Linked DNA regions of Homo sapiens: all the other regions are linked to region 2. The links come from fine-mapping of genetic effects on gene expression. A gene starts in region 2. Each other region holds a variant in brackets. All regions are shown on one strand. Distances are between the middles of the regions.

Region 1 (6,057 bases), 170 kb after region 2:
ACTTTCAGAAGTTTCTCTTTATCTTTGTGGTAACTGTACTATGATTTGCTTAGTTATCATTTTCTTAGTATTTAACTTGCTTATCAAGTTATTGGATCCGTAAATTGATGTTTTTCAGCAATCGTGAGAAATGTTTAGACATTATTCATTAAAACTTTTCCCCCATCCTTTTCTCTCTGCTCTTTCTGAGAATCTAATTACTCATAGGTTAGATTGTTTAATATTGTCCTACAGGTCACAGAGGCTCTGTTCTTTTTTTTTTTTTTAATCTTTTTATTTTTTCTAGTTGGATAATTTTTTTCTGTGATTTCCAGGGCTCTGTTAAGCACATCCAGGGAATTTTTTCATTTCAGTCATTGTTTTTTTTTCAGTTCTAGAATTTCCATTTGCTGCTGCTTTTCTAGTTTTAATTTCTCCGCTGATGTTCCTGGTCTGTGCACTTGTCAAGACTGTATTCTCCTTTGCATCTTTGGACTTGGTTAAGAAAGCTGCCTTAAAGTCGTTGTCTGTTAAATCCAGTATCTAGACATCTCATGGTCTATTTTTATTGATTCCTTTGTTGACCGTGGGTCATATTTAATGTTTTACCAAATGTATTTGTATATATCCATGTGATTCATACCCCAGTCAAAATATAGGACATTGACATGACTCCAGTTAATTCCCATTCCCTGTGGTCAGCCAGTGTTCTGACGACTACTTCTCTAGATTACTTCTGCAGTTTCATAAATGGGGCCATATGATGTATGTCCTTTTTGTGTCTGTCTCTTTTGCTTACCATACGTGTTAAATTTTCCCAGATTGTTGATTGCATTAGTCATTTATTTTTTATTGGTGAGAAATACTTCACGACCATGCATTGTGTTTGTTGAAGAAACTAGGTTCTTGTAGAGTAGACTGGCACAGTAGGCCAGGTTCTTGCACAGCAGATTCTGTTCATTCTTACTTTTCCTGTTGTGTTCCCGTGAGACTGTTGAAACGCAATTCTGTCCCCTGTATTGCCTGTGAACTGGTAGGTAGAGCTAGATCCTTGATTCGATTCAGCTGATTTGAGAAGGATGCATGTGGTAGGGTGGGTGGGTGTGGATGTGTGGTCGGGAGGTTGGAGACACATAATGTCTGATGGTCTCATTTAGTGATATGTGCGGCCTTTGATTCATTACTGGCTAGATTTTTACTTAATGAGGGATTGTCCTTACTCTAGAATGTTAGTTTAATTTGATACAGAACTCTAGATTGTAATTTTTTTCCTCATCTTTGAAATAATTGTATATTTTTGGATCTTTATTCATCTTAACCCTATTTTATTTTCTGTCTCCTCTCTTATTTTTCTCATCCTTGTTTTTGTCTTGCTGTAAATAATTGGACTTTTCTAAACTGAGGTATGATGTATCTCTCGGCTCGGTATAGCCATCTCTTTGCTTTTTTATTTTTCAGTGGTCGCCCTCATGATTACAATGTACATCTTTAACTTTTTGCCGTATACTTACACTTAATATTCTACTGCTTTATGTAAAATGTAGAAACCTTACAGCTGTATCCATCCATTTACCAACTGAATTGCCAGTAAGTTTGGAATCCTTTCAGGGTTAGTGTGGAGAAGAGATCTGGGGGGAGTTGTGTGCATCTGTTGAGGCAAATGTATTCCTTAAGGTGACTTGCTTGTTCATTTCTAAATGTTGTGTGAATACGGCTTTTTATCACTTATGACTTGGGATTAGATTTTACTATAAATTAATAGGGGGAAGAAGTCTTAGTATATCATAAGTATACCTGTCTGTACCTCTGATCCCAGTCTTTGGAAATTAACAGCAGGTAAGAACGTAAGTTGTTCAGGGCGTCTCTCCCTGACTTTTAACAAACAACTCAAACACTACCCTTTACCCTTTTCCCAAAAGGTCAGTTTCATCATCTTCCTTCAGTAGTTATGAAAAATTAGATTGAATAAGACATAGTCCCTGACTTCAAAGAGCTTAAAGTCTAGACAAAGAGCTATACATCTGTGTCATTGGCAGTGTGACTTAAAAACCAATCCCATTTTATTCTAGGGCAGAAGTGAATGCTTGTGCCAATTAGTGACAGGATAGAGGTGAATTACTGTTCTGATGCTGATAGGAACACTGCATACTAGAGCATTTTGGCAGCACCCCAGTTACTGCTATTTAATTGAAAAAGAGACATTACTATGTTTGAGGGAAATTATGTAAACTACAATAATACTGTGTTTCTCTAATATTTTTTAAGGATACCTTTGGTTTTTGTTAGATTTGCTGACAAGTGATGTCTGTCAAATGTACAGGAAAGAAGATGTCTATGTAATTGTATTTGTTTTATCTTTTTCCCCTGTAATATGGGCAGGACTCAGTAACCTTGCAGCATCCTACTTGAATCCTGTCAAATCCTTCGTGCCGCAAATGCCAAAGCTCCTCAAGTCTCTCTTTCCC[G/A]TCCGCGATGAGAAGAGGGGCAAGCGGCCGTCTCCCCTCGCACACCAGGTAAAAAGCACCGAGAAAACAGCTGTGAACGTTTTTCTAATAAAGCGGTGCTCTGTGTTGCGCCAAAGCTGGAGGTGGAGGTGCGGCCTCTGGGTTGGGGCTAAACTGGGTTTTTAAACCCAGAAACAGCTGTCGGTCTTTTCTCCGCCACTCTCTTCAGAGATAACAGAGCTGTTTAAACTTACGGACACACTCCTTCCTTTCTGCTTTTAAGAAGTGCCAAGGACACTGCTAATGTGATGTATGGTAATAACACTTAGAGCAGCGGTAGTAAAATTTATGAAGTGCACTTAGCATTGTTTGTGTATTGCCAAGTAGAAAATGTAATTCTATTTTTATTTTTTGATTTCATTTGTTTTTTCAAACAATTTTATATCATGAGTGCCCTTCCCTCTCAACCTCTGTTTTCTCTGCTGTGGATAACCTGTTCTTTCACTGAAAAGTGATCACCTGTCTTATATCCTTTTCTCTTAAAACTCTTTACCCAGCTCTAGGGTAAGTGTTAGAGCAAATGCGAAAAGGTTTTCCAAACAATCAGGAAGCTGCTCTTATGCAATAGTGAATGGGAACCCCATTGGAAATGCAATTTCCAGCGTTATATAGGTGTTAACTCAGCAGAAAATGATAAATGAGGATTTATTTATACTCATTCAAAAACACATACAGGGCAAGTTCTGTTGTCCAAATAGGTCTTTTGACATCAGCTTCTTCACGTTCTTCTAAACATTCAAGTTGCAGTAATCCAGGTGAATCGTCTGAGACTTAACTAAAGAATTTTCTAAGTGTATGAATGCATATTCAGGGGAGAAGGAATTAGTTTTATCAGGCTGCCATGCAGATATGTAATTTTTAAAAATCTAGCTTTATATAAGCATATAAATAAGCATACACATACAGTAGATGAAACAATTAAAACCAAGATTTTACAGCTGTTTAAATTGTATTTAGACACATGGTGGGGCTTGAGAGTTACTGAAATGAATCTATGACTGCAGGAGCCAAGTCCTGTGGGGACCGAGGTAGGCAGTGATTATTTTTCCCAGTGCTTTTTTTCCCCAGAGATCCACCAGAACTGAACCAGTGGGTCATTATTTTGTACGTTATTCAGTTCTAAACTTCTGCATCATTGTTTCACAAAGTGTGATTCATGAACTGTCAGATTTAGGAGCTGTTTTAAAAAATAGTTTCTCAGCCTGCGCTGGGAACCCATAGCTAACTTGGAGAGACCTTGTAATCTGCATTTATAAGTGCCTGTCTGTGGTGATTCTTATTTTTATTCAGTGAAGTCTGCTATCCAGTGTTTTCAGTTGCTGTTTGGTGAAGGCGGAGTCATGTAGGTTGAAGGAAATTGGAATCACGTTGGAAGTCACGGAGTCAGCCTGCCATCATTACTATTCTCCTTTAAAGCTATTTTCAGTTTTCCATGTAGCAAGTCACATCACCTGCTACCTGTAGAACTTACTTATGCTCTTACTGTTTTGGCAACGAGTGATTAGCTCTCTCTGGAAGTGAGAGGAACAACAGTGTGTTAGAAACAAATGTAGTGATTGGAGAATAACTATAATGCCCAGGTTAGAGGTTACCTTGAAATATATAGAAGATTTCATAAGCAATTTTTATTCATTTACTCCAGTCTGTTCATTTATTGTTTGAGCACATATGAGCAAAGGTTTGGGAAAACTGGCCTCATACAAATATTTTGTATTTCATAAAAATATAAAATATATGGCCGAGTGCAGTGGCTCACACCTATAACCCCAGCCCTCAGGGAGGCCAAGGCAGGTGGCTCACCTGAGGTCAGGAATTTGAGACCAGCCTGGCCAACATGGCGAAACCCTGTCTTTACTACAAAAATTAGCCAGGCGTGCTCCTGTAGTCATAGCTACACAGGAGGCTATGAGAATTAGAATGAGGCTATGAGGCATGAGAATCGCTTGAACGCGGGAGGCAGAGGTTGCAGTGAGCCAAGATCATGCCACTGCATTCCAGCCTGGGTGACAGAGTGAGACTCTGTCTCAAAGTAAATAAATAAAAATAAAAATACATAAAGTATATAAATCTAAAACTGGTCTTGATGAAGATACCTGGTAGTAAAGCCAGAACATTCCAGTTGGTTTGTGAGAACTCTGCTCCTTGGAAGGCATTTCCCTTTTCTCAGGGTGGCCAGGGAGCTCCCCCTTGCCCACACCGCCTTGTCCTCATCCTGCAGACTTGGCGTCAACATAATGCTGGAAACACTTACATCTCCAGGCTTCAGTGCAACTTCCTTCGCCTGACTTCCCTTCCCTCGGTCCGCGATCCACTCCTGGGACTGTAGATTCCATCAAGTCTTTACATCCAGTGCCCAGAGCTCCAACGGGGGTGTTCTTTTTTGTTTTTAAACCTGTTTCCTTCCATGCATAAATCTCATTGAGTTCCGTGGCTTTAGCTGTTTAAACAGAGTAGCCAGAATGATCTTTCACAGCCTCACAGTCGTCAGTGGTGTGACACCTTCCAGTGTCTCCCACTGAAAGGAGTGAAATGTGAATTTCTCACTGTGGCTCACAGTGCCCTGCAGTGCCTGTACCCCGGCCTTGAATCTTCGTTCTTCTTTATTCGCTCACCAGTACTAAGCCAGATAAGCTGCCTTTTTAGCCTATAAGCATGTGAAGCGCCTTCAGTCTAAGAGCTCTGGCGCTGGCCCTGCCACCCACCCAGGCTGCTCTTCCCAAAGGCCTCCCGTAGAACATTCAGGAAAGGCCACTCTGAGGAAGGACGTCTGAGTCTAGAGTGGGCTTTGTTGAACAGCCACACCAGAACAGCTTCCACCATACATGCAGGCACTACATTACCATTTCTTTCTTTTTTTTTTTTTTTTTTGAGACAGAGTCTTGCTCTGTTGCCCAGGCTGGAGTGCAATCTTGGCTCACTGCAACCTCCACTTCCTGGGTTCAAGGGATTCTTCTGCCTCCTCCTCCTGAGTAGCTGGGATTACAGGCACCTGCCACCACGCTTGGCTGATTTTTGTATTTTTAGTAGAGACGGGGTTTCACCATGTTGGCAAGGCTGGTCTCGAACTCCTAACCTCAAATGATCTACCCGCCTCAGCCTCCCAAAGTGCTGGGATTATAGGCTTGAGCCACCACACCTGGCCCATTTCTGACCTTTTTATCGGGAGTTATTGTTTGGTTTATATGTTTATCAATTATCCCTCTCCACAATATTCCCTGAGGGCAAGGCTTGTTGTGCCAGAATGGTGCCTGGTACATAGAAGATGCAAAATGTCTATTGTTTGACATGTGAACAGATTATAATAATATTATTTTAGAGACAGGGTCTTGGTATGTCGCCCAGTCTGGAGTGCAGTGGTGCGATGATAGCTCACTGCAGCGTTGAACTCCTGGGCTCAGGGAATCCTCCACCCTCAGTCTCCCAAGGAGCTAGGACTACAAGTGCGCTCCATCACGCCCAGCTAACTTTTTAAATATTTTTATTTTTAGAGACAGAGTCTCGCTGTGTTGCCCAGGTTGGTCTTGAACTCCTGGGCTCAAGTCCTCCCGTCTGGTATCCCAAGTGGCTGGGATTA
Region 2 (6,057 bases):
GGCAATCCTAATTTGGTTATCCTGATGTTGTTTACTTTATTGGGCTGTGAAAATCAAAGGACCTGCTGCACTAAACCCACTGCTGGTCTAGATGAGACCTCCTGAAGTGCAGAGGCAGTGCCCCTAAGAAAGAAATTTCCTTTTTTAAAAAAGAGGGCCTTCTGGGGTAGCATTTTCTATTTTTAACCTTTTTTGAAATTTTGATAAAAAACACGTAACATAAAACTTACTATTGGCCAGGCACAGTGGCTCACACCTGTAATCCCAGCATTTTGGGGGGGCTGAGGTGGGTGGATCACTTGAGGTCAAGAGTTTGAGACCAGCCTGGCCAACATGGTGAATCCCCATCTCTATTAAAAATATAAAAATTAGCTGTGTGTGATGGTGCACACCTGTAATCCCAGTCACTCTGGAGGCTGAGGCAGGAGAATCACTTGAACCCAGGAGGCAGAGACTGCAGTGAGCAGAGATCATGTCACTCACTGCATTCCAGCCTGGGCGACAGAGCAAGACTCCATCTCAAACAAACAAACAAACAACAACAAAAAGCTTACCATCTTGGCTGGGTGTAATGGCTCACACCTGTAATCCTAGTGCTTTGGGAGGCTGAAGTGAGGAGGATTACTTGAGGCCAAGAGTTCAAGACCAGCCTGGACAACATAGCGAGACTCCATCTCTACCAAAAAATGAAATATAAAAATTAGCTAGGTGTCGTGGTGCGTACCTGTAATTCCATCTAGGTGAGAGGCTGAAGCAGGAAAATCGCTTGAGCCCAGGAGTTTGAGGCTGCAGTGAGCTATGATCACACCACTGCACTCCAGTCTGGGCAAACAGAGCGAGATCCTGTCTCTAAAAAAACCCAAAAAACCTTACTGCCTTAACCACTCTTAAGTGGTTAGGTGGCGTTAAGTACATTTACATTGTTGTGCAACCATCACCACCATTCATTTCCGCAGCTGAAATCTTCCCAAGCCGAATCTCTGCACCCATTGAATACTAACTCCTCATACCCCCTTCTCCTAGCCCTTAGTAACCTCCAGTCTACTTTCTATCTCCATGAATTTGACTACCATGTGTATCTCATATATGTAGAACCATGCAGTGGTTGTTCTTTTGTGTCTGGCTTATTTCACCTAGCATAATGTTTTCAAGGCCCATCATCCATGTTGCAGCATGTTTCAGAATTTCCTTTCTTTTAAAGGTATTTTTAGACCGGACACAGTGGCTTATGCCTGTAATCCCAGCACTTTGGGAGACTGAGGTGGGTGGATCACCTGAGGTCAGGAGTTCGAGACCAGCCTGGTCAACATGGCAAAACTACGTCTCTACTAAAAATATGAAAATTAGCCAGGATTGGTGGCACATGCCTGTAATCCCAGCTACTGTCGAGGTTGAGGCATGAGAGTCGCTTGAAGCCAGGAGGTGGAGGTTGCAGTGAGCCGAGATCATGCCACTGTACTCCAGCCTGGGTGACAGAGCTAGATCCATCTCAAAAAAAAAAAAGTATTTTTATACTTTTTGACAACATTGCTTGTATTGAAGATACTCAATAACAGGATGGTTGGTAAAAGGGCAAGTCTTACCAGCTTTCTGTATTTACTCATCTGTAAAATGGTTCTGAGTTCTATTACTATCATTTAAACACATCTAAGCAGGGGTCACAAACCCACAAGGTCCAGGCGCATGTGTGGTAAAGCCACCTGGAGGGGGGCCGTGGTGAAGTGGAGAGACGGGTCTCTGATAAAGGTGGCTGCTGCTATTTAGTTCCAATCCACTCTGTCCAATATGTAATGTAGGCCCAGTACTGCATGCACAAATCTGATTTCACACTCTGTTACCCAAGCTGGTCTCAAACTCCTGGCCTCAAGCAATCCTCCTGCCTCAGCATCCTAAAATGCTGGGATTCCAGGTGTGAGCCCCTGCACCTGGCCACAAATCTGATTTTTATGTGTTGGCCAACACTGTTGGGCCAAACAGAACATGTTTGCGTGCTGGCTCTGGCACCCAGGCCACCTGTTAGAATGTCTGCCAGGGCTAATAAAAAGCTAATTTTAGTGTGGCCTCATTCATTAATTCATGCAATTAATGTTTATGGGTCTCTACTAAAGGCTAGGTTACACATATGTTAATCTTATTTAAAAATGTACCTATTTTACTAGGTATTAGTATCATATCCACTTTTCATATTAAAGACAAGCCCAGAGCGGTCAAATAACTTGCCCCTGGTCACACAGTGGGAAGCGCTGAGGTGGGCTTTGAACTCAGATGGTTTTCAGAGCCCAAGGTCCTGTCTCAAAGGAGGGGGACTCACAGGACAATGTTAACCCGTGGACCTATGGACACTCCCAGAAAACGTGATTTGCAACTTGTCGTGAAGGACGAGCTCAGCAAACAAGGCCGGACGTCAATCCAGGCAGAGGAAATAACTTGAGCCAGGGATCAAACACTAAGATTGGCAGGAAATGAGCAGGAAGAGGTAGCGGGGTCCCTGACGCCATCTATTCAATTGTTTTTCAGAAGAGGTATCAGCTCTTGAAGGCTTACTTCTCAATACTGGCTGCGAGAGCAAGAATGGTGTGTAATTTACAAAAGCCGTCATTGCTGTAGGTAAGTTGTAGCAAACGACTCGCGCCCGAGCATTCCCGCCCCCGCCTTCGCTGCGGCCCCGCCCACGACGACCCTGGGGAACTACAAGTCCCGCCATACAGCGGGGAGCGCCCGGAGCTCGCGCCGGCCCCGCCCCCAGCCCGGTCCCCACCCCCGGCTCCGCCCCCGGCCCCCTCCCGCCGGGTCAACCCCGAAGAGTCGCCGGTGGCCGCGGCAGACGGAAGCCGAACGAGTTCCTCGGCGGCTGCAGGATGGGGGACTCCAAAGTGAAAGTGGCGGTGCGGATACGACCCATGAACCGGCGAGGTGAGAGCCGAGCCCTCCTGGGCCGCCGGGGCGGAGGCGGCAGGTGCCTGGCGCGCCCTTCCCTCGGCCGCCGTGGGGGGTCCGGCGGCCCCGCCCCTATAGTCAGCGGCGGGGCGCGAGGAGGGGCCCGGGGACCCTGAAACCCGCTCCCGCGCTGAGACGCCCGGCTCCCTCTTCTCCCCTCCCTTCCCCCCTGGCCAGCCCCGTCCCTGGCGCCGTCGGGCCCCTCGTGCCGGCCCCGCTGCCCCTTCCGCCTGCGCCCGCCCCGCCCCTGCGCCCTTTTGCCCTCTCGTCTCCCCCGGAGGTTCCCGAGGGCGCCCTCGGCCCTCGCGCCCAGCCTCGTCCTGGCCCCTCAGCCTCGCTCCTTCCCCGCCAGCTGTCATCGTCGCCCCCGCGCGCGGGTCGCCAGCCCCTGCAGCCCGCCTCGGGACCGCCCGGGACCCCCCGGGACCCCGCGTCTCGCCCGGGTCGCCCAAGCCTGCACCGCCTTGGCCCGCGGCGGGAAGAAGGGCAGGGGGCCAGGCGGGTGCCCCGCGGCGAGTTCCTTCCACCTGGGCGTCCTGAGATTGGGGTCAGGTGGAGGAGATGCCCTTTTCGTTGTTTTTGGACAGTTGAGAAAGTTTTGGTTTTGCCTGAAGTCTCATTCATCATCTCTCAATAAATAGCTAAAGTGCCAAGATTCTTGTGGAATTGTATCTTTCTGACATTCTCTTAACTCTGCAGGGAGTGTAGAGAAGGCAGATAAACCGAGTACATTTAAATAATCTGTAGACCCGGGGAGTGGAGAGAACCCCAAAAGTCAGGGGAGGAGGTGGGCTGGGTCTTGGCTTTGATAGTCAAAGCAGCATGACTGGGTGAGTTGCTTTAAATAAGATAATGTGTTTGAAAACGCTTTATATACAAGGTCCTGTCATTGGGGGTCACTATTACTGTCTCAGGAGATGACTTTGCCATTGATGAGACTTTGAACTAATTAGAATCATTTAAGTACCAGAGACAAAGTTGTAGCTTCTTAGCAAAATCAAGTGTTGTTTAATTTTTATGTAGAAATTATAGGTTGTTTTCCTCTTCTTTGCTTTCTTTTGTATATATTGAGACATACAGATCAACCAGTTGACATAAGCTTTGTTGGTTTGTCCTTCTCGGGGAAATTGGTTTCTCGCTTGGAGTTATCTCATCTATGGGAATTGTTTTGTCCTGTTCCTGCTAGGTCCGATTAAAGCTGTCAGGTGAGTTTTTTTCCCTAAGAACTTAATTACTTTAAGTTCTCAACTAGTGCAAGATTGAGTCCTGCTTTGCTTCACTAATCTCGTGCTCTGACAACACACAATAAACGTCGATACAATTCTGAAAATTTTCAGAAGCATCAGTTTTTAAATATTCAGGTATCTGTATTTCAGTTTACTTCCAGTTTACCATCACAATAATTTAAAGAAAGAAGCCAAATGAAACATAACTTATCTGGGAATTGATTCTGAAAGGATGGTTTCAGCACATTCTTAAAATTTCCTTTTCACAAAAAACTTGGAAATGTCAGTGCTAAAAAGAGGCCGCTAACCAACCACCACAAAAGACATCTCAGATATTTAGAGCCCTTTCCCTCTCCCTTTCCCCATTGGTTTCACTTTTTGAGGGAAATTCTTATGCTTTTCTCTTATAAATTGCCATTGATAAGGTTGTAATAAACATCAGAGTTTAGAGGAAGGCAAAGAATAATAGTTTTAGCTGTGGAACGGATGTGAGCTGATCCTTGGGTTCAACAATCATTTTGAAATTGAGGTTTACCCATAGATTCCATTAGCCTATATAGAGAAGTGCATTATTTGGTGTAAAGTACCTCCTGTGTTCACTTAGTGCCCATTCTTAGCCTTATATTTCCTGACGTGCATGTGGACTTCTTTTTTCAGTGATTACCACACATAAATTTGTTCTTTTCCATTTTTGTTATGAAGTAATTGTTCACATAAATATAAAGGTTATTATGGAATACAGTGTGGTGGGATTGTAAATCCAGTGATTTTTAAAAATTGGTGTCCAAAGTTTGTATAAAAAGACTAAAACAGGCCAGGCACGGTGGCTTACGCTTATAATCCCAGCACTTTGGGAGGCCGAGGCGGGTGGATCACCTGAGGTCAGGAGTTCGAGACCAGCCTGCCTAACATGGCAAAACCCTGTCTCTACTAAAAATACAAAAAATTAGCCGGGCGTGGTGGTGGACGCCTGTAATCCCAGCTACTAAGGAGGCTGAGGCGGGAGAATAGCCTGAACCCAGGAGGCGGAGGTTGCAGTGAGCCAAGATCGTGCCACTGTGCTCCACCCTGGGCGACAAGAGTGAAACTCTGTCTCAAAAAAAAAAAAGACTAAAACAAAACCATATTTCTTTCCAGTAATTTCCTTTTTTTTCTTCCTTGTATGATCTGTAGGAACCTTTCCAGTAATTTTGAAAAGAATATTACTTTGAACAGTTATTAGTATTATGTAATACTGTATAATTATGACAAAGAGTAAAACTTGAGTCCTAATAGTTTCTATCATATAGGTGCCGGAAGCAACCTTATAAATCGCTATCTATAAAAGAGGACGGGGATGAGAATGGGTTACTGTGATGATGTAGTTTTACTGTGTAGACTCTGATATTTGGAATCACATTAGCTATCTTTTGAGGAAAATCTGAAAATTTCCAGAAAACTCTGGTGTATTAAGTTCTTGTGTGATTCAGTGGTTGTGCTTAGGTGTTTGGAGTTTTAAGGTGGTTAGCTGATTTATTATTTAACAGTTATCCTCGAAGTGAGAGTATTTTAGTCTTTCTGCTAAACTGTATGTGGGTTTGGGAACCTTAGTTATTTGAAGGTTAAGCATTAGGCCCTAATTCAGTAACAGGAAGAGTTGTAATGGCTAATTTGTCAGAAATATTTGTCTAGTCATACATTTATTTTAACATTCCACTAACAAAAGGAAAAAGAAAAAGAAAAAAGTTCACATACTTTCTTCATCCTAACAGCTTTTCATTTCCATGCCAGTTTGTGCTCACACGTGTATGTAATTTTACATAATTTTAATATTACAACCTTTATTTTGCCTTTCTTCATCTGAGATGCAAAGCTAAACAACTAGAGAAAAGGGTAAATTTTTGTCACAAGATCT
Region 3 (6,057 bases), 300 kb after region 2:
CTCTTCTGGCAGAGGAGACAGATTATTTTTTTCTAATTGACAGATGTTTTCAAGTTATTTTAAAAACAGATCAGGAACTAAATAAAAATGGGTATTAAGATCACATCCACACTGAGTGCAATGGCTCACACCTGTAATCCCAGCTACTTAGGAGGTTGAGGCAGGAGGATTACTTGAGGCCAGGAGTTCAAGGCTAGTTTGGGCAACACGTTCAAGGCTAGTTTGGGCAACATGATGAGTCCCTGTCTCAAAAAAAAAAAAAGAAAAAAGAAAAAAAAAAAAAAAAAATAAAATGACACCCATTCGAATGCCTATTATTTATAAAAATAAACATAAAATAACAAGTGTGGCAATAATGTGGAGAAAATGGAATCCTTGTATATTGCTGGCTGAAATGCAAAATGGTGAAGCCACTATGGAAAACAGTATGGCAGTTCCTCAAAAAACTAAATACAGAATTACCATATGATCCAGCGATTCCACTTTTGGATATCTATCCAAAAGAAGTGGAATCAGGCTGTGTTCACAGCAGCATTATTCACAAAAGCCAAATGTGGGAATAACCCAAATGTCCACTGGCAGATAAATGGATAAATGAAATGTGATATATATACAAACAGAATATTGTCCCAGCCTTTAAAAGGAAGGAAACTCTGACACAAAAACATGAATGAAACTTGAAGACATGATGCTAAGCGAAACAACCCAATCACAAAAGGTCAAATATTATATGATTCCATTTACATGAGGTACCTAGAGTAGTCAAATTCACAGAGACAGAAAGTAGCATGGTGGGTAAAATGGGCAAGGAATAATGAGAAGTTATTATTTAAGGGTACAGAGTTTCAATCTGTGAGGATGAAAATGTTCTGGAAATGGATGGTGGTGACTGCTGTATACTGTATGTATTTAATGCCACTGAACTATATACGTTAAAATGGTAGATTTTATGTTATGCATATTTCAACACAATAAAAAAGTAGAACATTATAATAAAAACTTTATATTAAAAGGCATTAGGGATATAAATTTATGGATGCTGGATCACATTCAAGCACCTGGCCATAGAAAACAAGCAACCTATAAAAGAAAAAGAGAGGCTGGGCCTGGTGGCTCATGCCTGTAATCCCAGCACTTTGGGAGGCCAAGGCAGACAGATCATGAGGTCAAGAGATCGAGACCATCCTGGCCAACATGGTGAAACCCCGTCTCTACCAAAAACACAAAAATTAGTTGGGCATGGTGGCATGCACCTGTAGTCCCAGCTGCTCAGGAGTCTGAGGCAGGAGAATCGCTTGAATCCGGGAGGCAGAGGTTGCAGTGAGCCAAGATCACACCACTGCACTCCAGCCTGGCGACAGAGCAAGACTCCGTCTCCAAAAAAAAAAAAAAAAAAAAAAAAAAAAAAAAAAAAAAAGAAAAAGAAAAAGAAAAAGAGAATAAGTTTACAATTATAAAATATACAGTTTATGACCAAGATATAAGAGTTACAAACACAAAGACCAAATAACATGAGAGGTAATAAAGCAAAAATCATAACTACTTTAATAATTTTTTTTTAAAGTATAAACATGAGTTATTTCAGTATACCTTTTAGAATGAACAAATATAGTTGGAGAAAATTTAAAAAACAGAAATTTGATATATTATCAATAAACATAATTTTAAAGATAAAAAGATACTTTGTAAACCTTCTAACAAAGAAGTTTTTTTTTCCCTATGTCCATTACCATAATTGATCACAAACACGGTAAAACAAAAGGTTTAATTTCATATATATAATCCAAACAATCTAGGGAAAAATGTACAAAAATAACTACTTATAAACTACAAGATAATCATAAATAACCCTTGGATCAAAGAAGAAACCACAAAAGAAATTATGACCAACATAACAATACACTGTGACAAAAAAGAGGATTGTTCTTCATAACAAAAATCCAGGCCAGGCACGGTGGCTCATTTTTAAAAGTCAAAAGAAAAAATAGTACTTAAAAAATAGAAAAATAAAATACTGTACACCAAAATAAGCTAGAAAAATGGAACTAAGAAATAATATTTGAAATTAATATAAAATGAAGCTACAGAAGGCATAAGTAAGTCCAAATGTTGGCTCTTTGAAAGACTATTAAATAATTACACAGAAAGTCTAATAAAGAGAAAAGAGAGAAAAAAACTGGTAAGATTCAGAAGGAAAAGAAAAATACAGCCATAGTATTGGGGGAAAAAAACCCTAAGAAATTATAAATGCAACTGCATGACAATTCATTTAAAAACCTAAAAGAGAAAAACGATTTCCCAGTAAAACAGAATATATCAAAATTGACCAAAAAATAAACTCTTTAGTCAAACCAAATAGAGTAAAATAAAGGTAATTAAGAATCTATAGAAAGAGGCATCAAAATCAGCTGAGTTCTCAGCAGACTTAATCTATTTAAAAAACATAATTCTAATAATACTAAACTATAGAAAAATACAGGAAATGTTCCAATCCATTTTATGCAGCCAGAATTATTCAACAGCAAACCTAATAAAGGTAGTATACAGAACATACCATTTCACTTAAAAATTAAATGTAAAAGATCTAAGTAAAAACTCACATTAGACTATAGAGTGTAGGACATATGAGAAATAATACAGTAGTCCCCCACTTTATCTGCTGTTTTACTTTGGCTTTCTGTGGTTTCAGTAACCTGCAGTAACCATGGTCCGAGAATATTACGTGGAAAATTCCAGAAATAAACAATTCATAAGTTTTAAAATGTGAGCCACTCTTAGTAACTTAGAAACCTCATGCTCCTCCTTCAGGGCATCCACACTGTAGACCCTACCTGACCCTTACTCACT[C/T]ACTAGCTGTCTAGCTTATCACACTGACTGTCCTGGTATCTAACAGTGCCCCTGTTTAAGTAATACTTATTCTACAGAATGATGGCCCCAAAGCTCAAGAATAATGATGCTGGCAATTTCAATACACCAAACAGAAGCCAAAAGTGCTTCCGTTCAGTGAAAAGGTGAAAGCTCTCAACTTAAGTTAAAAAAAAAAAATCATATGCTGAGATTACTAAGATCTATAAGAAGAATGAATCTTCTGTGAAACTGTGAAGAAGGAAAATGAAATCTGTGCATAGTATACACAGAGTCTGATACTATCTGCAGTTTCAGGCATCTACTGGGAGTCTTAGAATGTATTCCCGGTGGATAAGGGGGGTCCATTGTATACCACTATAATTTACGCAGAAATGCAAGAGTGGTCCATCTTTAGGAAATCAACATAATCCAATATATCAACCAATTTAAGGCAGAGAAATTACATGATTATATCAATAGATGTTGAAAAGGCATTCAGTAAAACTTAGCCATTTTAAACAAAAAACTATGGAAAAGAAGACTAGAGAAAAAAACACTCTGGTAAAAACATAAGAAGGGCAAATATTATTCTAAACAGCAAAACACTAAAAGCATTTCAAATAAAATTAAGATTGCATGCACACACAATAAATATATATAGAGAGAGTATCTATGTGTGTAATTTCACTTTTATATGCATAAAATAATCTGTGGAAGAGATCCAATAACAGTGGTTACTTTGAATGCAGGGTTAGGAACTACAGAGATTACGGAGAGGAATGGGAAGGAAGCTGTTCATAGGAAGCTTTTTTAAAAAATTATTTTAACCATGTGAATGTTATTACCTATACAATAAATCAAACGAATAAAATTAGGAATTAGAGTGAGAAGCCCACTAAATCCTTTATAAGTAAACACTGACTTAAAGTTTACAGGAAAAATGGTAAGACAGAAAAGAATTAACTGGCAAAAATATTGGAATAAAAGAGAAAAATATCTTTTTGTCAATGATTTGGCAATACAATGTCTAGAAAACTCAAGCAATTATATTTTTAAAAAACTGAAAATTAGCTGTCTGCAGTGGCTCACGTTTGTAATCCCAGCGGCTCAGGACACTGAGGCAAGAAGATTGCTTGAGGCCAGGAGTTCAAGACTATCCTGGGCAATATAGCAAAACCTCGGTATCTTTCAAAACAAAATAAAACCAAACCCTGAAATAAAAGAAATTATTAAATTGAGATATGATACAATACTTTTAAAATTAAGTTTCTCTAATTGAGCAGGAAACATCTAGAAAAAGAATGGGAAAGAGATTTTCATTGACAGGGATAGCCTTTCCCAATATTTATGAATAACTATATTGAGAAAGAAGCCAAAAAGGTTTTCCTTTCAATTTAAAAATAGGACCTAGGCTGGGCGTGGTGGCATGAACCACCTGTAATACCAGCACTTCGACAGGCTGAGGCGGGCGAACCACTTGAGGTCAAGAGCTCGAGACCAGCCTGGCCAACATGGTGAAACCTCGTCTATACTAAAAATACAAAAATTAGCTGGGCATGGTGGCACACACCTATAATCCCAGCTACTCAGAAGGCTGAGGCAGGCGAATCGCCTGAACCCAGGAGGCTGGGGCTACAGTGAGCCGAGATCGTACCACTGCACTCCAGCCTGGGCGGCAGAGCAAGACGCTATCTCAAAAAATAATAACAATAGTAAAAATAAATAAATAAAAATAGGACCTAATAGAGCAGAAAGGCTTTGTTTTTCAACTTTTATTTTAGACTCAAGGGGTACATGTGCAGGTTTGTTACAAGGGTATATTGCATGATGCTGAGATTTGGGGTACAACTGAACCCATCACTCAGGTAGTGGGCATAGTACCCAACAGTTATTTTTTCAACCTTTGCCCCGATTTCCTCCTTCCCCACTCCTGGAGTCTCCAGTGTCTACTGCTCTCATCTTTATGTGCACGTGTACCCAAAGTTTAGCACCCACTTATAAGTGAGAACATGCAGTATTTAATTTTGTTTCTGCATTAATTCACATAGGATAATGGAGTCCAGCTGTACCCACATTGCTGCAAAGGACATGATTTTGTTCTTTTTTTATGGGTAGCATTCCATGGCATAAATGTACATTTTCTTTATCCGTTCCACTGTTGATAGGGACCTACGCTGATTGCATGTCTTTGCTATTGTGTATAGTGCTGCAATGAACACATGGGTGCATGTGTCTTTTTGGTAGAACAATATATTTTCCTTTGGGTTTATACCCTCCACGCCCAGGCCATTGTTGGTTCTTTGAGGACTCTCCAAATTGCTTTCTACAGTGGCCTTGCCAACGTCTGTTGTTTTTTGACTTTAATAATGGCCATTCTGACTGGTGTGAGATGGTATCTCACTGTGGTTTTGATTTGCATTTCACTGATGATTAATGATAAGCATTTTTTCATGTTTGCTGGCTGCTTGTAAGTCTTCTTTTGAGAAGTGTCTGCTCATGTCTTTTGTCCACTTTTTAATGGGGTTAGAGCAGACAGTTTAAGAACTACTAAGAAAATTGTGCAAAAGAAGAAAACCAAAAGTGGACTTCTCTGACCAGATAATCAGAAATACATTCAAAAGCCACTGTAATGAAATCAATATGGCACTGGCATAGAAACGCACACACAAATGAGCAGGACAGAATAAAGATCTTAATTATAGATTACAGCACATATGGCACAATGTGCTATCAAAGGTTACATTTTAATTCAGCAGGAAAGAATACATATTTTTTAAAATTATAATAAAAAAACTGGTTATCATCTAGCAAAAAAAACAATTGCATTTTTATCTTACATTATATGTAAAAAATAAGTATCAGGCAGAATAAAGACAAATGTAAAAAATAAATCATAGTAATACATCTACAACAAAATTTAGAAGATGACAGGTCTTGTAGATATGCTTAACAAAGACCAGAAACTTCAAAAGATAAACAAAACGTTAAAAATTTCCTATTATGAAGAAAAAAAAAACTTAAGCAGTTAAACTGGAAAAAACATGACATGTAGAGAAAGAGCAGATCCAAGTTATCAAGTTTATTCAAAAAATACTCAAATGCACTAGAAGTCAAGGAAATAACAGTTTAACAATGAGATATCACTTCAGTAAAAATTTAACAGACATATCTTCAATCATACTACCATATTTCATTGGTCTAAATGTGATT
Region 4 (6,057 bases), 72 kb after region 2:
GGCGTGAACCTGGGAGGTGGAGCTTGCGGTGAGCTGAGATCACGCCACTGCACTCCAGCCTGGGCGACAGAGCGAGACTCCGTCTCAAAAAAAAGTAAAAATGTAAAAAGCAGTACAGTATGACAACTATTTACATAGCATCTACTTTGTCTTAGGTGTTTTAAGTAATCAAGAGATGATTTGAAGTATATGGGAGGATATGTGTGGGTTTTATGCAAATACTACACCATTTTATATAAGGACTTGCACATCTGTGGATTTTGGTATTCATGGGAGGTCCTGGAAGCAGTCCCACTCAGGATACTGAGGGATGACTGTATACACATGTGATAGGGCTTTTGAAGTGAGAACTAAGCTTACAAGAATCAGGATGGTTTTTACTTAGCCTTATTAAGAACAGAATTAATTAAATAAAATTATGGAGATAAGCGTGGAAAGCTAGAACAGGAGAAACTTCGTTTGAGCTCCACATTTTATTTACTCCTACTCTGCTGTAATGATTCTCACTATGGGTGACACCTGGAGTTTGCAAGGCAGCTCCCCCCAGTTTGATGCCCAGTCCTTTGGGGCCATCTTCCATCCTCCTCCTTTTGCTCCTCTGTGTTTGAAAATGGCTTAGTGAGCCACCACTGCTGATAGATATACGTTTTAGCTTTGGAAAAACATGGAGGGTGAGCAGTGTGTAACACAACACTGCAGCTGGATGATGTCTTCTGGGCCCAAGGGCTCTCAGGGGCTGTCAGCCGCTGGGGGTCTGCTTTCACTTCCTGGCCTCGCTTCCTTCTCACAGCCCCATCCAGGGAACAGGTGTCTCCCCTGCCTGCTGTTTCACACAGAGATGCAGGTGTGCCGATCCTCACCTGTCCAGAGGTGCTGAGCCAGTCGTCCTCTCGGTTGCTGCCAGGGTTATCTGCCTCCCCCTTTAGTTGCCCTTCTGGTACCTCCCAGAACTGCTCACTGGCTTTGCAGCCTGTGCTCTCCCTGCAGGCCCCCACCCTTACCCCCATCAGTTTCATTGGAACTATTTTTTCAGGAGTTTCTCAATTCTGATCCAGGCACAAGCAAGCACTCTTGGTTTCAAAACCTTGTTCTTTTTTCCCCCTTCTCTTCCTTTTTGGCAATTTCCCCACTTCCCCCATCGCCTGTCGTTTTGAGTTAATTTTAGCTGGGTGATGGATATCAGTATGCATTATTAATTTACCATCTTAACCTAATTTTCTTTCTTAAAAAAATTAACCTTTTAGACTTCTGGTCCAGATAATCTTGTGAGTTTACACAGAAACATTCTCCTGCCAACATCAAAATTATAGCAGAGATAGATAAAATATTTTAGAATGTGCGAATCATGTAATCAAACTCAAAAACAAATTTAGACTGGGCATGGTGGCTCACAGCTGTAATCTCAGTACTTGGGAGGCTGAGGCTAGAGGATTGCTTGAGGCCAGGAGTCTGAGACCAGCCTGGGCAACATAGTGAGACCCCATCTCTACACAAAACTAGAAAAACACAACAACAACATATATAACTTCAAGGACCAGCAGTAAGCGAGGGCTGAAGTGACATATTTCCAGGGCTTTGGAATCAGACCAGGTGCCTGGAGGTGATTGGAAGTTCAACTCTTGCCGACTAATGGGGGCACTGGTGTATGGTTGGGGACTGGAGCCAGGCTCACCATGTGAAAACTGATTTGGGCGAGCCTTCTCTGTGAGTGAAAGCTTACAGTCAGTTTTTGGCCACCAACATTGAGCTAATGTCTGTGTTAATAGGAAGGGATGGAGACATTGGGCCTTGAGAAGACCCAAAATCTGGGCTTCAGTAATGGAAATGACAGCATAAACTAGTCATGGAAAGGTGGCCATCAGGAGAGGAAAAAATAAGCAATCATGTAAACCATAAAATAAACACTCCCTGCTAAGATGTACCTGCAAACTAACATGCAAACCATCATCAGGAAGCATAGCAACAGACTCCCAAAGTGGGAGAATGTGACAAAATGTGAACCGAGATACATTTTAAAACAATTGCACTTAAAATCTTTACGGAGATAAAAATCACAAAACACAAGTAAGTAGATTTCAAACTGACAGAAATCGAAAAAGTGAAAGATGCAGTCAGTGAAAAATTTGCCTTTGCTTAGTTGGTTTAAAAAGAAATAATTAGTGAAAAAGAAGCTTTTCAAACAGTGCAAAAGAACTATGTGATATTCTAGAAAGTGGTGATAAGGTGAAAGATCAAAACAGATCATCTGTAAGATCCCACCAAGTAGCATTTTAATACAGATTGTTCCTGCTTTTTATGCATATAGTTTTTTGGTACAAATATGGAATCATACTCTAGACTTTTATAACTTTTTCATTAACATAAACTTTTTTTAAATTAGTAAGTCTTCTATACCCTCAAATCTATACTTGCACATGGGCATGTCATAATTTATGTAAACATTCTGCTATTTTAAGCTATTTTGGACATGCTATAGTGAGCATCTTTAAATGTTATTTAAAAAATATCTTTTTCTTTGACTACAAAAATAAAAATATTGAAAAAATATAAAAACATGAAACAGATCACTAATTTCGCTGCAAAAAAATAAACTATAGATGTAATTCTGTGTGTGTGACTGTAGGTGCATGTGTGTGTGCAATAGCCATTTTATTACACATTTTGTGAATAGTTTTCCATGTAAAATATAGAGTCATATCACCTATAGCATGTTTAGTTCTCATTGTAAGCCTCTACATACATAATTAATTCCCATTGTATGACAGTAAGTTGTTTTATTTCACTATTATGAACAGTTCTATCAGTTATGGTTTATAAGTAATGTTGAGGTTTTCTTAACACACACTTATGTTCATTTTCAACAGGTGTTTGCTTATGATCATTGTTTCTGGTCTATGGATGAATCTGTCAAAGAAAAGTATGCAGGTAATAGAATCCAGCATCCTGTCAACTACTGATGGTGTAGAAGAGGGGTTCAGTATTTTTTCCCTTACACGATTGCTTGGCAAACCCCCCAAACTGTGTGTTTCCTCTGCTGTCACACCACAATAACAGTCATCAACACAGAAGATGACTTAATGTGACCAAATGTTGGGGGAGTTTTCCCTGCACCCCAAGCGGCAGACACTGGCTGGGTGTCCTCTAACTCAGTTCCGATGCTCTCTACCTGGGGACAGCGTCAGATCCACAGACTGAGGGCTCAGTCCCACAAGACCGCTCCCTCCTTCCCACCAGCGCAGGTCCAGGCCTCTAGAACTTCTGACCTACTGGCTTCCAATTAGGGTTCCCACAACCTCCTCTTTGGGTTTGATTAATTTCCTAGAGCGGCTCACAGAACTCAGGGAAACACTTGTGTTTAGGGGTTTATTACGAGGGATTTTCTTTAAAGGAGACAGGTAAACAGCCAGATGAAGAGATACAGAGGGTGAG[A/G]TCTGGAAGGGTCCCAAGCGCAGGAGCTTCTGTCCTCATGGAGGTGGCGCGGCGCCCTCCCGGCGTGTGGATGAGTTCTTACCTTCCTATTGGGCCCTGTGTGTTTAGCAATCCAGAAGCTCTCTGAACCCAGTCCTTTTAGGTTTTTATGGAGGCTTCCTTATATAGGCATGATTGTCAACCGATTAGAAATGTGATTTGACAAAAAGTGCATGACTGAACACAGCACGTCCTGTCTGTTCAGACTTTTCTTGGCCATTCTGTGTAGCATTCCTTCCTTTAGGATATGAGGCAAGACCTTGTGGAATGAGAAGCTCTTGACCCACAATCAGATGAGAGTCTTGCCTCCGGCAGGTAAAAGGAGGGCAGGAGATCAGATAGTTTCCTGAGGCTAAAATGCCCCAACATGTAAAAGACTGCAACAAGGGTTAATGAGCCAGGAACTGCGGATGGTAACCTACATCTCTATAATTACCATAGGATATATATGAGTACCATAGGATTCTTTTGCATAACTGTAGAAAGTACAGACAACACCCTCCCGTGTTTGCTATTAGAGTTTTTAATGTTGATTGGAAAATGGGAGATTCACTGTGTGCCATTCTTGGTATACGTTGATGAAATTACATCACTAGTACACACAGTGGCTATTCCACATTCACACGCCCCAGCTCTTACATGAGGCCGGGAGCACAAGGTCGCCCCTTAGATTGCCCTGGAGGCCTGAGACTGGGCTGGAGAGACAGGATGGCATAGTGAAAGAAGGGGAGCACCGGCCAAGGAGAAAAGGAACCCTAGGCTGCAGGCCCAGCCCTGCTTCTTACCGCCCCTGCGCCTTTCAGTAAATCACCTCACCTGTCAGAGCTTCAGTTTTCTCTTTTTGATGGAAAGGAATATGCCATATTCTCTCTAAATTTTCTTTTGGCTCTGGAAGTCTGTTACTCTATTATTCTTCTAAATGATGACTGTCTCAAGCCCCATCTCACCACAAGTTTAGGACTGCAGTGACAGCCTTTGATTGCCTTTATTCCTTACTGCTTTTGTCGCCTGTTTTTAAACAATCTCTTTTAAATATTAAGCATCATATTGTTTTGGCTTCTGTTATGAGAAAGATGAATATTATGGCTGTTTTGAAGTTAAGATTCATTTGGTCTAGGTGGCCCAATATCAGAAGTATAAGTTAACTGGTATTAAAAAAAAAAAAAAAGGAAATGAGACATAATGGAATACCCTTGCCATAACATAAAAGCATCCAGTTCTTCCATGTGGTATTGAGACTAAGTGAGGTAGGGTGACTTGTCAGATTCACATTCAATTACTGACTAGTGACATATCTCATTTGGCCTGTCGGGGAGAATTTGACTCTGTTCTTTATGTCCATGATTGAAAGCTGAGGGAAATTTCCAGGCTCTGACTCCCTGTCCTAACTGGTATGTGTTGTAGATCCTGTAATTAGAAATTGTCACTGAGGGAAAGGAGAGGGGGTTGGTATATATGATTATTCTAAACTCTGGTACCCACCGAATAAAAGCATTGCCTGAGTGGTAAATAGTTAAGTCCAGGTACACCTGGGTCCCAAGTATAAATTTCAGATATTTATAATCATTGATTATAAAGTGAGCAGCTCATTGGCTCTGCATTGCAGGGGATTCTTAGTCGTGTTTATTTATTCAAGCATGTATTACAGGGAGCTGATTTTCCCTCATGTGCTAACTAGAAATAACCTGGAAGGCATAAGCCTTTGGGAGCATTCGTCAAATTTAAAAATCTTGTTTGGAGATAAATAAGCAGATTATACATTTTTGAGATTTTTGTTTTTGTTTTGTGAATTGTTCATATGTAGTTTTGGCTTAAAATATCTTTTCTCTTATTCTCTCTCTCTCAGGTCAAGATATTGTTTTCAAGTGCCTTGGAGAGAATATCCTGCAGAATGCTTTTGATGGCTACAATGCATGTATCTTTGCCTATGGACAGACTGGTAATGTTAAATAACATGAAATCACATAAACAACCATCAATGAAAGAAAATAGAACCATGTTTATTTTACTGAGTAACATTGCTGATTTATTCCTTGTTGTTTTTGCTTTCAGAAAGTACTGTAGATGTTGAAAGTAGTCAGTAACATTATTTTAAAATGAGTGTAATAAAATTAGGATTGGGATCTTTTATCTTTACTGATTTTTCTCACAAGGCACTGGCAGCATTGTTTTTCGAAAAAATACAGAGCTATGACTGTTGAACACATTACTAGCCATGCCTATAGATCATGCTTTTTTAAGGCTTTCAGAACCATAACAGATAAAATACCAAAAAGAACATACTTGTTAATATCTCACCAGTAATAACTAAGAAGCTTTTTGGCTTTTGAGTCTCTGTGGTCAAGAAAAGAAAATTTGAAGTGAACTAGTTACTTTTGTAAGAGTAAAGTATACAGCTTGTCCAACTAGAAATGTTCTCACAGAAGAATGTGTTGGATATTTTCAAGAAGCCTCATGTGTCGTGTTGAAAGGGCAGAAAGCTGGGGCCAGGCGGCGACAGCTCCAGTCCTGCTCCTGCAGCTGGCCAGCAGAGAGACCTGGGCAGTTACTTAACCTCTCTGCCCTTCAGCGTCCTTATCTGGAAAGGCT

Evidence for each region. PIP is the estimated chance that this variant, and not a neighbour inherited with it, causes the effect.
Region 1: its variant is the best candidate, but not a certain one, in a credible set for the expression of KIF13B in whole blood (INTERVAL, PIP 0.78).
Region 3: its variant is the best candidate, but not a certain one, in a credible set for the expression of KIF13B in whole blood (TOPMed, PIP 0.55).
Region 4: its variant is the best candidate, but not a certain one, in a credible set for the expression of KIF13B in whole blood (INTERVAL, PIP 0.83).

Annotation. Positions count from the first base shown.
Region 1 is chr8:29,089,180-29,095,236 of GRCh38, reverse strand. KIF13B (kinesin family member 13B) reads left to right here. Exons shown (of 40, transcript NM_015254.4): 37 at 2,359-2,492. Among named protein-coding and RNA genes, the nearest start is that of KIF13B, 170 kb to the left of the region's middle. The variant G/A (reference allele first, on the strand shown) is at 2,445.
Region 2 is chr8:29,259,836-29,265,892 of GRCh38, reverse strand. It overlaps KIF13B (kinesin family member 13B), which reads left to right and starts at 2,823. Exons shown (of 40, transcript NM_015254.4): 1 at 2,823-2,913. The coding sequence starts at 2,859. RefSeq lists a silencer at 2,616-3,445.
Region 3 is chr8:28,956,126-28,962,182 of GRCh38, reverse strand. All of the region lies in intron 1 of HMBOX1 (homeobox containing 1), which reads right to left. Among named protein-coding and RNA genes, the nearest start is that of HMBOX1, 69 kb to the right of the region's middle. The variant C/T (reference allele first, on the strand shown) is at 2,848.
Region 4 is chr8:29,187,865-29,193,921 of GRCh38, reverse strand. It overlaps KIF13B (kinesin family member 13B), which reads left to right. Exons shown (of 40, transcript NM_015254.4): 4 at 2,865-2,925; 5 at 5,315-5,407. Among named protein-coding and RNA genes, the nearest start is that of KIF13B, 72 kb to the left of the region's middle. The variant A/G (reference allele first, on the strand shown) is at 3,430.